2 linked regions of the Homo sapiens genome follow. The protein of the gene in region 1 interacts with the protein of each later gene in a biochemical or structural test. Each region holds a gene or a part of one and is shown in the gene's direction. Other genes may lie near its edges.

Region 1 (3,500 bases):
ACTTTGGGAGGCCAAGGCAGGCAGATCACTAGGTCAGGAGTTCGAGATCAGCCTGGCCAATATGGCGAAATCCCGTCTCTACTAAAAAGTACAAAAAATTAGCAGGGCATGGTGGCACACACCTGTAGTTCCAGCTACTGGGGAGGCTGAGGCAGGAGAATTGAACCCGGGAGGCAGAGGTTACAGTGAGCCAAGATCGCACCATTGCACTCCAGCCTGAGCAACAGAGTGAGACTCAGTCTCAAAAAAAAAAAAAAAAAAAAAAAGGTGATACAGTAGCCCAAGGAACAGAGAGCAGATAACCTGGTGATACTAGGAAGTCAACAATTAAGAGAGATGTCAACTTTAAGAAAAAAAAAAAAGAGCTTTTTAACATCAAGTTGAGCTAGTCGTAATCTTTAACTACCAGAATTCAGAAGATTAAAGTTTCTATAGTGGGAATGTAAATTAGTACAACCACTATGGAAAACAATTTGGACGTTCCTCAAAAAACTAAAAATAGAGCTACTACATGATCCAACAATCCCACTGCTGGGTATATACCCAAAAGAAAGGAAATCAATGTACCGAAGAGGTATCTGCACTCCCATGTTTGTTGAAGCACTATTCATAATAGCCAAAATTTGAAAGCGACCTAAGTGTCCGTCAACAGATGAATGGATAAAGAAAATGTGGTACTTACACACAATGGAAGTACTATTCAGCCACGAAAAAGAAGATCTTGTCATTTGCAACAACATGGATGGAACTGGAGATCATTATGTCAGGTGAAATAAGCCAGGCACCGAAAGACAAGAGTTGCATGTTCTCACTAATTTGTGGGATCTAAAAATTAAAACAATTGAACCCATAGAGAGCAGAAAGATGGTTACCAGAGGCTGAGAAGGGTGGTGGGAGGGTGTGGGGGATGTGGGGACAGCTGATGGGTACAAAAAATAGTTATAAAGAATGAATTATCCAGCACTTTGGGAGGCCAAGGCAGGTGGATTGCTTGAGCTCAGGCACTCGAGACCAGCTTGGGCAACATGGTAGAACCCTATTTCTACCAAAAATACAAAAAAGTAGCTGGATGTGGTAGTGTGCATCTGTGGTCCCAGCTACTCAGGAGGCTGAGGTGGGAGGATCACTTGAGCCTGGGAGGCGGAGGTTGCAGTGAGCCGAGATCACACTACCACACTCTAGCCTGGGTAACAGAGCCAGACCCCATCTCGAAAAAAAAAAAAAAAGAATGAATTAAGACCTAGTATTTGATAGCACAGCAGGGGGATTATAGTCAGTAATTTAATTGTGCAGTTTAAAATAACTAAAAGAGTACTTTGAGGGGCTGAGGCAGGCAGATCACTTGAGCCCAGGAGCTTGAGACCAGCCTGGCCAATGTGGCAAAACCTCGTCTCTACTAAAAATACAAAAAAAAAAAAAAAAAAAAAAAAAAGAGCTGGGCATGGTGACATGCCTGTAATCCCAGCTACTCAAGAGGCTGAAGCATGAGAATTGCTTGAACCTGGGAGGCAGAGATTGCAGTGAGCTGAGACTGTGCCACTGCACTCTAGTCTGGGCCACAGAGGGAGACCTTGTCTCAAAAAGAAAAAAAGAAAAGAATATAATTGGATTGTTCGTAACACAAAGGATAAATGCTTGAGGGAATGGATACCCTGTTTTCCAGGATGTGATTATTACACACTGCATGCCTGTATCAAAACATCTTATATACCCCATCAATATATACACCTACTGTGTACTCAGAAAAATTAAAGTCTTCACAGTCACAAAAAAATAAAAAAGTAATTTTTTAAAAGTTTCTATAGCAGTAGTTGGTGCTAGTGTCAGCTGAAGAAGAGCTTCTAATGTTCATTACTTTTCACTAAAATGAAAGCACTTTGACCAGTATGGTATGTAATTCTCAAGGATCATTCAGATTTTTTCCCACATAGCTATTTTTGGATTCCTTTTGATCCTATAAAATGTGCGTTTACTTAGTGTTTCCTAGTGATTAAATATCCTTTTAAATTTACCAACACGTTGCTCAAGAAAGAAAACATATTTTGCAGTGAGGATTCTCAGTCCTGGTTGTACATTAAAATCACCTGAGGAACTTTTTTAAAACATTGATGCCTGAGCCCTACTTCAGAACTGTTCAATCAAAATCTTTGGGTCTGGGCATCTGAAATTTTTAAGGCTCCCAAGGTGATTCTAATGCATAATAAATGTTGAGGACTATTGATTTAGATGATAAAATTATAGATTTGAAATTTATTTTTAAAATTTGTCTTCTGTTGCAGCAATTGACATGTGGTCTGCAGGTGTCATATTTCTTTCTTTGCTTAGTGGACGATATCCATTTTATAAAGCAAGTGATGATTTAACTGCTTTGGCCCAAATTATGACAATTAGGGGATCCAGAGAAACTATCCAAGCTGCTAAAACTTTTGGTAAGCAGTTTTGTATTATAGAACCAAACAAAATGCCTTTGATTATCTCCTACAAATCACTTAATAAATTATTGTGAAATTTTCTTTACAAATAAACATTCAGTCTTGATAAAGTTCTCTAATATTAAGTAGAAAATTCTTCAGTTGCTTGAAAATAAATTTATCACCTCTCTATACATATAATCATTTAATCTTATTAAGCACAAAGTAATACACTGTTGCAGTATTTAAAGTTTACCTTTATAATTTTATAAGAATAAGGAGTAAAATCTTAACTCCTTTTAGTTATGGTTTGACTTTTATTACATAAATTTACCTTTTATTAAAGGCATGTTTTACTTTGTAATATGTTTTACTTTTTTATTGTCTTTTAAACATCAGATGCACTATGTCTTGGTACTTAGAGTGTCCTTGCCTTAAATGATCTTAGGCTATACTAACAAGTAAACAGTTAATTATTAATACAGTGTAATAAGGACTAGGGAAGAGAATGGAAATGTGTGTTGTCAGGTTGTGTAGGTTTACGGTAGCAGAGAAGCAGAATGCATAGAAGGCCTTAACTGATGGGATATTATTGTAAGCATATATTGGACTTGGATGTCATCTCCTTAGCCACGCAAGTTCTTCAAGACTGGGATGTGCAGTGTACTTCATAGGGCACATAAGAATTATCTCAGCCTTGCTCTGGCCAACAATCTGAACTCAAGTGCCCATTTAATGTTTATTTTCCACGCTCAGTTATAGTTAATACTTTCCAAGGAATAAGTGGGATTGACTCAGCTTACTACCATACAATACAGAACACCTCAGGAGACAAAGTTTCAGCCAGCCTACCTCAAGAGTAGCTGGGCTGTCTTGTGCTCAACCCCAGGATCAGTGGGTCTTAACCAGAGTTGCATGTCAGAATTATCTGAGAATCTTTAAGAAATACATATGCCTGCCCACTCAGCCTATTCTTGGAAAATATGATTCAGAAAAACAAGATACTTAGGAAGGCTCCAGCCTTGTTAGTTTGAAAAAGCAAGTGATTCTGACTAAGAAACTATGGGTGTTTAAGAACCACTGCAAAAA
Region 2 (3,500 bases), on another chromosome or scaffold:
TTCAGGTAATAGGTTCACATGGTTCAAAATACACATAAAATAAAAAGTAAAAGTCTCCTTCTTACCATGTTCCTGGCCCTGATCATTATTTATGACTTCTTGTTTATCTTCTCATTATTTACATTTACAATGAAAATAGAATGCATTCTTTTTTCCTTTTTTTCTTTTTTGAGATAGGGTCTCACTGTCGCCCAGACTGGAATGCAGTGGCAATCACGGCTCACTGCAGCCTTGAACTCCTGGGCTAAAGCAATCCTTCCGCCTCAGCCTCCTGAGTAGCTGGGACTACAGGCATGCGCCACTACTCCCAACGAATTTTTAAATTTTTTATAGACATGGATTTTTGTTATTTTGCCAGGCTGGTCTCAAACTCCTGGACTCAAGCAGTTCTCCTGCCTTGGCCTCCCAAAGTGCTAGGATTACAGAGCCACCATGCTAGGCCTATTAGAATACATTCTTACTCACCTCTTCCTTTTAAACAAACCGTAGCATAGTATATGTACTGTCTATACCTTATTTCCTTTTTTCACTTATCTTGGCAATCTTTTCATATCAGTATGATGGAGAGCTTCCTCTTTTTTTTTTTTTTTTTTGAGACAGTTTCACTCGGTCATGCAGGCTGGAGTATAGTGGTGCGATGTGGGCTCACTGCAACCTACGCCTCCTGGACTCAAGCGATCCTCCCGTCGAGAGCTTCCTCCTTTTAAAAAATATTTCTGTTGAATGGAATAATATTTTATTTTAAACAATTTGAAAGATTTTAGGTTGCCAGAGTAGTTCCGTTCCTGTTTGGATTGCATTCCAGGTTGGCACACATCTCTCTTTCCAAGTTGTCCACTTTCCCTTCCTCTGCTTTCACTGCCCCAGCTCTTTCCAGGCTTCCTCATTTGGCTGCATGTGTAGTACCATGCCGAAAGCACTGGACTGCCAGACGGGAGACAGGAATTTTGGTCTTGGCTTGACTGATGCCTACTATTGTGTGCCTGCTTTTGATACCAGTTTCCTCTTTTGACTAGACAGTTTCTGGAGTTTGGCTTTAACATTCTTTGATTTGATTCTTAACTTGTGTGGTGGCAATGGCCACCTTTCACCCAATAGTGACTATAGGCTAGGTGTTGGAGTCTGAAGAGGAGGAGGCTTGGAGTAAGAGCTGGAAGCGCATTAGAAGTGGAACAGAAGTACAGTAGCCCTTATGTGAAGGGATGACAATATGGCACAAGAATCGGTGTGCCATCATCTTTAGCTGTCTAAAGCAATTTGGGCAACCTGAGACTGAATGTATAAGAGTCATATGAGAGAAGTTTTTATTTATTTGTCAAGATCCCTTGCAGTTTATCTGGAGTTAGCTTTTGAATTTGTGTATTTGACAAAGAGTTTGATTTTTTTTTTAGGGGATAGAGAAAAAGTTTTGTGACAGGACTTCCAATTTTGATGTCTTTCTGATATGTATATATGCATATTTGCATTTCAGACAATAGATGATTTGCTGCGGTGTGGAATTTGCTTCGAGTATTTCAACATTGCAATGATAATACCTCAGTGTTCACATAACTGTAAGTATGTTTTGTTCCTGTGAGTTAGTAAATTGCGATTTTTACATGAGGTAGTGTTAATTTAACACCAAAGATATGTGCACATATTTATGTTTCACCTTTAGCTCTTCTATCTTGTAGTTTTTCAGAAGGTCTTTTTCACTGCCTTCCTCTTGAATATTGAAGGTTTTTACAAGGCTTCTATATTTTCTACCTCGTTCCTCTTTGATATTTTTATGATTCTTATAGCATTTATGGCAGTAAAATTTTTGGTCACAATAAGTGGTTCTTTATTTGCCAAGTGTTTTTTGACGTTAAGTTTCAGAATTTTTGTTTTTAACAGGATAACAGATAGGTGGTTCCACCAAGTAGTACTTGATATAGAATTTCAAAGTTTAAAAATCTGTAACAATAAGAATATTGCCCCAGTGGGAGAATTCTACCACTGACTTTATTACAGACAGTTTTATACCTTAACTGCTATGTGACGCTGGAAAGACTCATGTTGGAATTTGTTTGTACTTCTCTTTAAGAGTCTAGTATATAAGCATTTAAAAATATCGTACCTTAAGATATTTAGTGCATAGGGGTTACCCTATCATTGTTGAGGAGCTAGACATACAGTTTATGGGTTATTCAGGTTCATGATCTTTCTTGTCCTCTATTTTCAAGTTGATTTATCTTGGAAAGTTAAAAACAGTCAACTTAGGCCTAAGAAATTGGTTTTAGTTGGTAGTAGCTTTGGTGGAAAAGTTTCTGTGGAGAAGACATAGTAAGAGGGTAGCAGTGACGGCAGCACGGGCATTGCAGATGCCCTTGGGCTTGACTCTTGAAAATCGGGTGAGAATTTACTACTTTAGAAAATGTTTGTGAGAATTAAATGTGCAGAACTCACTGTCCGGCACATTATGAGTCCTTAACAATGTTAGTTTTCTTCCAGACAAGATTCACATTAAAAACCAAGATAAGTTTTGGAGATTGTTTTAAAATATATTTTAACATCATCTTTATTTGGGTGTAATTTACATACAATAAAATACATCCATTTTAAGTGCACATTAAGGTATAAAAGTGTTCATGAATTTTGACAAATGTGTATGCTGTGTTACTACTGCAATTAAGATACTGAACATTTTCATTATCTGATAAATTTCTCCCCATCTCAGTCAGTATGACCTCAGCTAGCCATCTGTAGTCTATTTCTGGACTCTTCTATTCCATTGATCTTAGAAACTTAGTAGTTTTTCACCAAAACTACTGCCCACTAAAACCAATTGTTTAGGCCTAAGTTTACTGTTGCTTTAGCTTTCCAAGATAAATCAACTTGAAAATAGAGAACAGGAAAGAGCATGAACCTAAATAATCTGTAAACTGTTTGTCTAACTCCTGAACAATGATAGGATAACCCCTATTGCAGTAAATACCTCAAGGTACAATATTTTAAAATGCTTATATGCTAGACTCATATATGTCTATCCTTGTGCCAGTACCACACTATCTTGATTACTGTGGCTTTGTAGTAAGTCTTGAAGTCAGGCATTGTAAGTCCTCCAACTTTTTTTTCTTCGTTTTTTTTAGGATCGTTGCATTTTAAATGCATTTCCATGTATAACTTAAAATCAGGTTGTCAATTTCTACCAAAAGCCTGCTGGGATGTTCACTGGAATTGTATTGAATCTAGAGATCAATTTGGGAGAATTGACATCTTAACAATGCCGAGTCTTCAGTGTATGAATATGATACACTTCTCTATCTTTATTTCTCTCAACAGTGTTGTTTGATTTTCATTGCACAGACCTTGCACAAAGAAATATAACTTATATTGACCTTTCGTCTTCTGACTGCAGTAAATTCACTTTAATTCCAGCATCTTTTTTGTTGATTCCTTAGAAATTTTTGCATACACAATCATGTCATTTGTGGATAAAGACAGTTTTACTCATTCCTTTCTGATCTATATGCCTTTAT

What was found. Proteins that work in one complex are often made in the same cells at the same time.
Region 2: of the proteins of CDC7 (region 1) and RAD18, one has a biochemical effect on the other in vitro, tested with the Homo sapiens proteins (one study listed by BioGRID).

The regions. Positions count from the first base shown.
Region 1 is NC_000001.11:91,517,851-91,521,350, forward strand, and holds part of CDC7 (cell division cycle 7-related protein kinase), read left to right. Parts: intron 1-682; exon of another isoform or gene 683-825; intron 826-2,279; coding exon 2,280-2,429; intron 2,430-3,500. UniProt on the Homo sapiens protein: Kinase involved in initiation of DNA replication. Phosphorylates critical substrates that regulate the G1/S phase transition and initiation of DNA replication, such as MCM proteins and CLASPIN.
Region 2 is NC_000003.12:8,956,973-8,960,472, reverse strand, and holds part of RAD18 (E3 ubiquitin-protein ligase RAD18), read left to right. Parts: intron 1-1,471; coding exon 1,472-1,553; intron 1,554-3,500. UniProt on the Homo sapiens protein: E3 ubiquitin-protein ligase involved in postreplication repair of UV-damaged DNA. Postreplication repair functions in gap-filling of a daughter strand on replication of damaged DNA.